Linked DNA regions of Homo sapiens: region 2 is linked to region 1. Evidence: fine-mapped expression QTL. A gene starts in region 1. The other region holds a variant in brackets. All regions are shown on one strand. Distances are from middle to middle. Region 1 holds the start of GAREM2 (GRB2 associated regulator of MAPK1 subtype 2). Region 2 overlaps HADHB (hydroxyacyl-CoA dehydrogenase trifunctional multienzyme complex subunit beta).

What was found.
Region 2: its variant is fine-mapped to the expression of GAREM2 in lung (TOPMed, PIP above 0.99). The same link has a PIP of 0.9 or more in whole blood.

The regions. Positions count from the first base shown.
Region 1 is chr2:26,170,132-26,175,495 of GRCh38, forward strand. GAREM2 (GRB2 associated regulator of MAPK1 subtype 2) reads left to right here and starts at 2,957. Exons shown (of 6, transcript NM_001168241.2): 1 at 2,957-3,201. The coding sequence starts at 3,090.
Region 2 is chr2:26,256,993-26,262,356 of GRCh38, forward strand. The region is part of intron 3 of HADHB (hydroxyacyl-CoA dehydrogenase trifunctional multienzyme complex subunit beta); the gene reads left to right. Among named protein-coding and RNA genes, the nearest start is that of HADHB, 15 kb to the left of the region's middle. The variant A/G (reference allele first, on the strand shown) is at 2,269.

The DNA.
Region 1 (5,364 bases):
TTTGGGGGCGAAGGGGTAGAGCTGGAAGTTGAGGTCGGGAGCTGAGGAGAGCCGGCCATGCTGAGTAAGAGAAGCCACCGTAGATGTGGCGTCTCTGTCCAGGGCGCAGGGAGAAGGTGACCACGTGGCTCAATGCCAGTTTATACCTGCTGTCTGGAGCCCAGGCTACCTGCACCTGTTGTCCTAGCTGGGTGGGGAGGTGGTTAGTACCGGCTTCCCTCTTAAAAGTCTCCCAGTTAGGATGACACACGGTCACCCTAAAGAGAGACCCTACAGGGTAGGGGAAGAAAAGTGAATCTAAGGCAGCACCCTTCTCATTCACTTGCTTCTTCCGGCCTTTTCGCCCTCCTGTCTCAGACCTTCCATTCCCTTCTTTTCTTTTTTTTTTTTTTTGAGATGGAGTTTCGCTCTGTCACCCAGGCTGGAGTGTAGTGGCACGATCTCGGCTCACTGCAACCTCCGCCTCCCAGGTTCAAGCAATTCTCCTGCCTCAGCTTCCTGAGTAGCTGGGATTACAGATGTACCTGGAGTGGCAGACAAGCACCACCATGCCCGGCTAATTTTTTGCCTGGATAATTTTTGTATTTTTAGTAGAGACAGGGTTTCACCATGTTGGCCAGGCTGGTCTCGAACTCCTGACCTCAAGTGATCCACCTGCCTTGGCCTGCCAAACTGTTGAGATTACAGGTGTGAGCCACCGCGCCTGGCCCATTCCCTTCTTAAGACTCCTATATTTTCACTGTATTTTCTTTTCTTCTCCTGCCAGGCTTCACCTTCCCACTTCCCTGGGAAAGAACCCACCCCACCCCTACAGACTCAGGAGAGCGGAGTCCATCTGGGCTGCCTGAGTCACCGGGGTGAGCAGCTCCTCCCTGGCCAGGGTGAGCGGGCTGGGTTTGGGCCAGGCTGGGGAAGGGCCTCGGTCAAGTTGGTAGGTGGGGGTCCTGCCTTCTGGTCGCAGCGCTGCCTCTTTCTTGCCGTGTGACCTTAGAGCAAAGCATTTCTGCTCTTGGAGTCTCAGTTTTTTCCTCTGCAGCAGTTGAGGATTGAACCACTGATCTAAAACGTCTCTTCTCGCTGAGAAGTGGTGTTCATCTTGTCGGCTGCCATTTCTCATGGGGTTCGAGCCATAAGATGCCAGGTGTCAGTCACCTCAGAAGAGAGGGTTTTGTTTGTATTTGGTGGGGTTCTTCCGGGGGTACCGAGGCTGAGGACTGATGGATCGAGGCGGGTGGATCACTTGAGTTCGGAGTTCGAGACCAGCCTGGCCAACATGGCGAAACCCTGTCTCTACTAAAAATACAAAAATTAGCCAGGTGAAAAATTAGCCGGGCATGGTGGTGCTTGTCTGTAATCCCAGCTACATATGTAATTCCAGCTACTCAGGAAGCTGAGGCAGGAGAATTGCTTGAACCTGCGGGGCGGAGGTTGCAGTGAGCCGAGATCGTGCCACTACACTCCCGTGAGGGAGCAGCCTAGGGACTAAGGCCCGCTGGCTCCGCGAGATCAGCCAGGCCCGCATCATCCCCCAATTACCTGCAGAGGGCGCCGCAGACACAGAGAGGGCGAGGCCGAGGCCGAGGCCATCTAAGCTTCTGGGAAGGGGGTCCCAAAGGGAGGCCCCGAGCTGGAGTCCAGGGGGCTTGGAAGGAAGAGGTGAGGACAGCAGAAAAGGAAACGCAAATTAAAAGAAGGGAACGAAGGCTGGGCGCGGTGGCTTACGCCTGTAAGTCCAGCACTTTGGGAGGCCGAGTCGGGAGGATCGCTTGAGGTCAGGAGTTCAAGACCAGCCTGGCCAACATGGTGAAACGCCGTCTCTACTAAAAATACAAAAAAATTAGCCAGGAGTGGTGGCAGGTGCCTGTCATCCCAGCTACTCCGCAGGCTGAGGTGGGAGGATCGCTTGAGCCCGGGAGGTGGGGGTTGCAGTGAGCCGAGATCGCGCCACTGCACTCCAGGCTGGGTGATAGAGTGAGACCCAGTCTCAAAAAAAGAGAAGGAAAAGAGAGAAGGGATGGTGGCGGTGGGGGAGGAAGGCGGTTCTTGTAATGATCCGAGAGGAGACCGCAGCACCGGTTACGCCCTCGAACCTCGGCCTCCTCATCTGCAGAATGGACGCAGTCCACACCGCGTGCTGTGGAAGGGTTGGAGCGCCGGTTTACATGACACAGGGCTATCGGCTAAGGGGGCGCTGGGAACGTGGAAGGTGCTCTATGGTGGGGCGCTGTAGGGTGCTCTTGGGCAGTAGGGTTGGAGTCAAATCTGGGTTGAAGTCCAACCTAGGTTGAAGTCCTGGCTGCCACCTGACCTCTGCCCCTCAGTTTGCTCATCAGTAAAATGGGGTTAAGGAGGCTGCCTCGCCCAGCTCCACGGAGCCGGAGGTGATGAAGGTCCTGGAAGAGCAGAATTCAGAACCCGAGCTTTGGGCGGCGGAGCAGGACAGGGCGCGGGTGGGCGCGGCCTCCGGGAGGCCAGCACGAGGGGGAGCGGCGGGGCCCGGACACACCCAGCCAGAAGGAGGAGGCCGACCCCGCGCCGACTCCGCAGATGCCGCTCGGGACTTCGTTGTCCCTCCAGGCGCCCGCCCTGGGGTCCTCCATCACCCGCCGTCACCTGGGCGCGGGGAAGCTGGCGGGAGGGGAGGCGGGGCTTGGCGGCAGCGGCGGGTGGGGGCCGGGGAGCGGGGGCAGGGGCGGGCGGACGGAGCGCGGGGCTGGGGACCCGGGGTCCCAGAAGGGGGCGCGGGGACGGGGTCCGAGGAGAGGGGGCCGGGGCGGGGCAGGGCGGACAGGGCTGGGGGCGGAGGTCCGGGGGTGGGTCCGGCGGCGAGTCCGGGTCGGGGCGGACAGAGCAGGGGGCGGGGGTCCGGGAGGAGGGGGCCGGGGTCCGGGAGGAGGGGGCGGGGCCCGGGGGCGGGGCCGGGGTCGGCGCCCTGCGGGGAGGCCGGCCACGTGACGCCCGCGGCCCGGCGGGGCTGCCAGGCGGCGAGCGCCGCGGCGGCCCCGGGAGGTGGCGGCGGGCGCGAGAGCCTGGGCCGCGCGGGACTGACCGTCGGGGCCCCGGGACGGCGGCCCCGGGGCGCCCATGCCATGGAGAAGCTGGCGGCCGGGCTGGCCGGCCTGCGCTGGAGCATGGGCGCCTTCCCGCTCGACCTCATCGTCAGCCGCTGCCGCCTGCCCACGCTCGCCTGCCTTGGGCCAGGTACCGGGGTCGCTGGAGATGGGGACCGGGGTCCGCGGGGAAATGGTGGGCTCTCCAGCCAGGGGCCAGAGGGATCGTGAGGAGGGTGCGGCACCCGCACCCTCCCAGCTCCCCGGCGTGGGCCCCGAGCGGTTCCTGGCGCGCCTCCCGGGAGACGCGGGGCCCACCCGCCAGGTCCGCCTCCTGGGCCCCGCGGACAAGCACAGGCACAGACACCGGGGACAGGGCCCGGGACAGAGTTTTCCCGCCCAGCTGGAGTCCGGAAAGGGGCCGAGCCCCTGCTCCCGCCCCGTCGGTTGCCCCCCTTTCCCCCGCTGCCCCTGGGCCCCCCGCCCCGGCCGCGCCCCCTTGGTCCCTTTGTCCCTGGCCTCTCACCTCTGTCTTCCCTCATCCCTGGGACCCGGACTCTGTCTTCCCCTTACCGCCACCCCTAGTCCTGCTCCGCCCCTCTGGGGACCCTTCTTGCACCTCCTTTCTCTTCCCTAGGAGCAGCCTCGGTCCTGGGGCGGGCAGGCCACCTTCGGGAGAGGCCGGCGGGAGCCGGGTCTGCTGCCCGGCGTGACCCCCAAACTCCCGGCCCTCCCCCGAATCTTGTCCCACTTCTTAATAGGACCTGGGGCCCCCAGCCGCTCGGCTGATGGAACCACGCATGGGGGCCCGAGAGGGTACGCCCGGAGGCTGCATGGAGCGAGGGGACCGTTTGGGGGGAGGGGGGTGCTGCTTGGTTGGGGGATGGGCGGTAGCCGGGGCTGGCAGCCAGGCCGGGGGTTTTGTGTGTGAGAAGAATAGGGGTTTGGCCCGCGTTGGCACACTCGCTTCCATGAATGCTAATGGGGCCCGCGGCCGCAGGCTCCTCGTCTCCCCGTGGGGCCCGGCAGCCCCTCCTCCGTGGCGGCCAGGAGTGGGCACAGTGGGCGTCAGCTGTCCCGGGAGCAGGCTCATGGGGGAGCATCGGCGCCCCGCCGTCGGGCAGGCCAGCGTCTAGTTCTCTGGCTCGCGGCCGAGTGGTCAGAGTGTGGTACTGTGTCTGCCTGTGAATGGAGGTCGCTGCCCTGGGGTCTTCTGGCCACTTCCCACACATCCTTTTTGGCATCTCCCCTTTCTGGGCAGCTTTTCTGAGCTCCTCGGTCTGCGTAGGGCCTCCTTTGGGCTCCCCGGCCACCTCATGCCAACTCTGGCTTGTCTCCTACTGTGCACCCCATTATAATGGTCAGTCAGTTTATTGTCTTTAGACCTGGCTGTGGGCTCCTTGAGACCAGGCATCCTTGCCCAATAAAGATTATGGATTGAATGAATGGGTGAGTGAATGAACAACTGGTGTGATGGCCCAGCTGTCTGTTGTGTGTGACAGTGTGTGGCTATGGCTGGGTCACCATCAGGGTGTGAATGTCTGGTCAGAATTGTATGGCTTGAAGGGTAGGTCCCTGTGTGCCTGTGCATTTGGGAGGGGCCCCTTGGCCGGAGACTGAGTTATGTTGTTTGGGTGACAAGCATCTGTCACTGTGGGCTATTGTGGTTCAGCTGTTGGTGGTCATGAGCCATGATTACTGCTGTGTGCCCATGTGGCTGTGAAGATGGGGCTAGGACCCAGGACAGCTCTCAGAGGAGGGAGCAGAGTTGGAGGAGAGCTTCTTGGGCCCCCGGAGGTGAGGAGGTACAGGGGAAAGCTTAGACAACACCCCCAACACACACATAGTGGGGGCCAGGCCCTTCCTGTGCGTCTTGAACCGCCCGCCACCCTGCCACACACACACACACACATACACACACACGCCTACCCCACATGTACACATTTTATGGAGCCCCCAGCCATCAGAGTAAACCATTTCCCATTTGATTGGCAGAAATTTTGTAAGTTGTGCCTGAAGGAGAAAGGAAGGAGGTACTCCCTACCCCCACCCTCCCCACCAGCTGCAGCCCGGACACAGCCCCTTCTGCCTCCTGGAAGCTGGGCTGCCCCTCCTGCTCCCCTGGAAACCGTTGCTGGGGTTGGCGCCTCCAGGCCCAGACCCCTCCCAACTCCCAACACCTCTGCCCCAGAGCAGCTTCCCCCAGGCCCCAGGGCTGGGCCTCCCACTCCTGCCTTCTAAACCTGCTCTCTCAACCCCTCCAACCCTCAGCCGTCACCCCTGTAACTGGGAGGATGAGGGGGCGTGGGGAGGG
Region 2 (5,364 bases), 87 kb after region 1:
TAGTGGCTCTGTTTTCTCTAATGCTTTTTCTTATTTATTTATAAGTGTTGAAAGTAATGGGTTCATGTACCTGATTGCCTTGTTGATCTTGCGTCACTGGGAAGGCTAAGAGCTCCCCTTCTTTTTTTTTTTTTTTCTTTTTTTTTGAGACAGAGTCTCGTGCTGTCGCCCAGGCTGGAGTGCAGTGGCACAGTCTCGGCTCACTGCAAGCTCTGCCTCCCAGGTTCATGCCATTCTCCTGCCTCAGCCTCTTGAGTAGCTGGGACTACAGGTGCCCGCCAACACACCTGGCTAATTTTTTGTACTTTTAGTAGAGATGGGGTGTCACCGTGTTAGCCAGGATGGTCTCGATCTCCTGACCTCGTGATCTGCCCACCTCGGCCTCCCAAAGTGCTGGGATTACAGGCATGAGCCACCACACCCGGCCAAGAGCTCCCCTTCTAATGCTGCTTGCCTAAGACAGGGTCCCATAACTGTAGTATATCCATTGTCTTCTTCCCAGTTTATTGGGGGAGGGGGCTCAGGAAAAACCTCTGTCTCCTCTGTGGCACCTTTACCCAGTAACGGCGGGGCTGAGGGAGGAGGAGGTGGTAAGGTAGGTGATGGTTCCTCTTCGCTTCTCTTTTTAGGCTCTTCTGTGTAGAGCAGGGCCAAAGCAGCCCTAACTAAGGCCCACAACGTTAAAGATGTTACTGGGACCTGTTGCCCTTGTGCATGATGTCATTTAAGATTTCTTCCCACTTGTGGCTGGGCGTGATGGCTCACACCTGTAATCCCAGCACTTTGGGAGGCTGAGGCAGGCGGATCACGAGGTCAAGAGATGGAGACCATCCTGGCAAACACAGTGAAACCCTGTCTCTACTAAAAATACAAAAAATTAGCCGGGCGTGGTGGCGGGCGCCTGTAATCCCAGCTACTTGGGAGGCTGAGGCAGAAGCATGGTGTGAACCCTGGAGGCAGAGCTTGCAGTGAGCCGAGATCGTGCCACTGTACTCTAGCCTGGGGACAGAGCAAGACTCTGTCTCAAAAAAAAAAAGATTTCTTCCAACTTGTTCCCAGAACTCTAGGTCTAGTGTGCCTTCTTCTGGGAACCGTGGGTTATGGAAAACAACAGTTTGCATTAGGTCCCTTAACTGAGCCTCCGAAACGGAGGCTGTGCTAGCTTCAAGCAGCTGTTTCAATACTTTTATGTACTGTTGCTGTTGAGCTGATAACTCAAGTCCCATTGTTACGGGTGGGCCTTTGTTCTTAGAGCTCCCAAGATGGGGCAGGCGGCTCCCAAGATGGCGGCAAGCCTTTTTTTCTCTGACCTGAGGCTCTTGGCCTCATGGATTCCAAGGAATGGAACCTTGGGCCATGCAGTGAGTGTTATAGCTCTATTAGAAGCCATGGGTCATGGAAGAGAATCGTGGAACCCAGCGACTAGCGTTGAGCTCGATTAGGACGAACCTGGGCACTTGGCCGCACAGAAACAATGGCGAGCCTCTAGCCCAAACAGGAATGGCACTGGGTGCCTCGCTGGATCAGAAACGCAGCGGACACCCTGCCAGATCCGAGGGGTGGAAGTCAACAGCGGGTCTGCGACAGTGGCGAACAGCGGGTCTGTGACAGTGGCGAACAGCAGTGGTGGAAGGTGAGCAAAAGCTCAGCTCGAGCCAGAACAAACATGGACCAGAAGAGTGTGCAGTTGCAAGATTTAATAAAGTGAAAACAGAGCTGCTATACAAGGGTAGGGGATCCAAAGGGGGTTGCCCCTCCTTGCTCAAATGCCTGGGGTTTATATCCCAATCATTGTCGCTCCCCCTGTGCTCTCAGATGATAGATGATTTGAGTATTTCTTTACCTCCTGCTTTTAACCTAATTGATATTTTAGTGAGCCTTCTTTACCACCTGATTGGTCGAGTGTGAGCTGAGTTACAAGCCCCGTGTTTAAAGGTGGGTGCAGTCACCTTCCCCAGCTAGGCTTAGGAATTCTTAGTCGGCCTAGGAAATCCAGCTAGTCCTGCCTCTCACCATGATGAAACCCTCTCACCATGATGAAACCCTAGCTTGAACATCATGTCCCATGATGAAACCCTAGCTTGAAAATCCCCTCGAACTTGGAAATCCTGAGTGGGCACCAATTACTTACTGCACGGTCACTTCACTTTCATTTTCAAGGGTTCTGTCGTGATCCATTGCAGCATGTCTCACACGGGGCACCACCTGCCGGGTCTGTCCCACAGACCCTGGCTGACTGACAGATGAAATGAGTACTCAGACACAGGT[A/G]TGCAGTGTAAGAGCAGCTAGGGGTCTGCCTGGCTCTAGTGGCCAAAGTGCAGCAGCCCTGAGAAGCTGGAGCTCCTTGCTTTTATTCAGTGTAGGCACAGTGATGAAAGCCTGGAGCAAACACAATCTGTGGGTAATTAACGTTTATTTCTCCCCTTCCAGGAACGTCTTGCATGGATGATCAAAGATCAGCTCCTGGTCAACATAAATAAGCTAGTTTAAGATACGTTCCCCTACACTCCCTTGTACCTACTCCTTGCCCTCTGCCTCAGGGTTATAGAACAGCTGCCTTCAGCTATTCTCCCCCAGGGCTCTGCAGAACCTTCTGACCTTTTAGAAGGCCTGCATCTTTCCCTATAGTTTCTCCCACCACTCCGACTGATCTCCTACATATAATAATGAATATTTTTTAAATGTGCCTTGTAGAGTTAGTTTAATTACTTTATAATATGCTAAATTATTTGGAATGGCCAGTGTGCCCTAGAGGTTGCCCAGAGGTTTAGAGGCAGGAATCATCAGTAACTGTAGTTATCAGGGAAGGCTTTACTAGGAGGTAGAATGTGAACGAGGCCCAAGAGACAGGTAAGAATTCGATGGGCAAAAAAGGGGCCAGGCAGATGGGAGGTCCATAAGTAAAGGCAAGGAGGCTGACCTGAGCAAAGCTGTAAAGGACTGGGGGCTGGCTCATCTTGTTCTATTTTGAGAAGTAGTGGAAAATACTTAAGGTGGAACCGAGTAAAACAAGCTATTTGTTAGAAGAGTTAAGAATTTGAATTTTATCTGAAAGTATATAAAAGGAATATATGGTCAGTTTTTTCTGGTTTTTTTTTTTTTTTTTTGAGGCAGAGTCTTGCTCTGTCACCCAGGCTGGAGTGCAGTGGCATGATCTCAGCTTACGGCAACCTCCACCTCCTGTGTTCAAGCCATTCTCCTGCCTCAGCCTCCCCAGTAGCTGGGATTATAGGAGCGTACCACCGTGCCCAGCTAATTTTTGTATTTTTAGTAGAGACGGGGTTTCACCATGTTGGCCAGGCTGGTCTTGAACTCCTGACCTCAAATGATCTGCCTGCCTCAGCCTCCCAAAGCGGTGAGATTACAGCGTGAGCCAGCACGCCTGGCTTGGTTAGTTTTTAAAATGTGGAATGACATGATGGTGTACCATTCGACCTGTCACCTGCAAGGTCAGTCATGAATAGTGTGCAAATCTTCAAATTTAGTGACCTGTTTTCTGTCTGCTCAAATAAGGATTTTCCTTGAGGACCGATGCATTTAACCATCTTGTTCTCCTTGACACTCTCCTGCCTTTGATCTTGTGTACTGTTCTCTCTTGATTCTCCTACTACCTCTCAAGTTACTGTTTGTCTCACATATTCCCTCAGCCTTCTCATTGTAGGGACATCACAAAGCTAAGGGTTTTTTGGTGTAGTAATGGACCCTCAAGTTAAGGATGAGAAGGTTTGTGTGTACTACAGCTGGAAAGGTGTTAGGAACCAAGCAAGCAGCTCTAGGGGCCAGCTACTTTGTCTCACACACCACATGGTATGTCCCTTTCCTGGTCTTTCTGCTTCTATCATTCTTCATTCTGGCTGGCTTATTTGCTCACTTATGGTTTACAAACTCTGGCTTACGAATGACATCAGTTTACCATCAACCTGTTCTTCCTCATGGCATCTTTTTAGCTTCAACTAATTGGCATTTCTTTCCATGCTTCTTTGCCTAGAGAGAGAATCTGACCAACACAGTTGATCACTTGTAGGTAGATGACACTGGTTTCTGGTTGGCTCCTATATGGATGGATCATTGGTGAGTCCAGTACCTACTCTGAATCTAATCAGCTTTTATATTGACTTAGGGATGTGTCTATGGCTTCCCCTTTGGCAGGGACTGTAAGCAGGGCAACTCCCTTTAGAGGGGCCTGTGGGATGTCCAAAACAACAACAACACAACAAATACCCCCCCCCCATCCAGACAAACAAAAAAAGTATCTTTTATTGTTAAAGAGGAAATAGGAAATTTAAAAATAAAAGAAATAGAGGGGGCTGTGGGAGAACAGGCATTGCAGAATACATCTCTGCTTTCCTTCTGTATTCTAAGCTTCAATATTTCATGACTTTCTAATCTACACTCATTTCTCTTCAGAGGTTTTGCTTTGCATCTTCTAGCTAACTGTGGAATTAACATATCCACCTGGTTGTCTCTCTGTCACCTCAAAGTTAGCGAGTTTAAAAATGAGGCCAGGCGCAGTGCCTTATGCCGGTAATCCCAACACTTTGGGAAGCCAAGGCTGGCGGATCACTTGAGGTCAGGAGTTCAAGACCAGCCTGGCAAACAAGGTAAAACCCCATCTTTACTAAAAATATAAAAACTAGCCAGGTGTGGTGTCGTGTGCCTGTAATCCCAACTGCTTGGGAGGCTGAGGCAGGAGAATTGCTTGAACCTGGGAAGTGGAGGTTGCAGTTAGCCGAGATCGTGCCACAGCACTCCAGCCTTGGCGACAGAGCAAGGCATCATCTCAAAAAAAAAAAATTAAGTCCCCTTTTTTTTCCAAAACCAGTTCTCACTTTGTTTCGGGTAGCTAGGTATTCTTAGTCTCTAAGATTCCTTTATAATCCTGTTTTCCTCTTTCCTTTCTTTCTATATCTGATTGGTTGCCAACATACCTTGTTTTCTTTTATAAACTTCCTCTTTACTCATGTTGATACTGCCTTTATCCTGGCCTTTTGTGCCACATGCTTGGGTTTGCCACAGTCTCTTTGCTTACCTCCTTGTTGCCTTTATCTCCTTCACCAGCAGCACTTCTCCATGAATGCTGCCAGCGTCATCTTTATGCCCTATTTTATCATGACTATTAACTCTCACTAATATTTCTTTAAAGTTGGTTGTAGATGTTTACTATAAATACTTCTCTGTGACATTAACAGGTGTGGTAAGGTCGTTGTTGACATTGTATTCCCAATAATTTAGGATTTTTTTCTATCTTTGATAAGGAATAATGATAGAGTAGGTAAATTCCAACATTAACAAAAACAAGAAAATAATGAACTAGATTTTGATATACTAACATGGAATGTTCTTCGAGCTATATTGTTAAGCCAA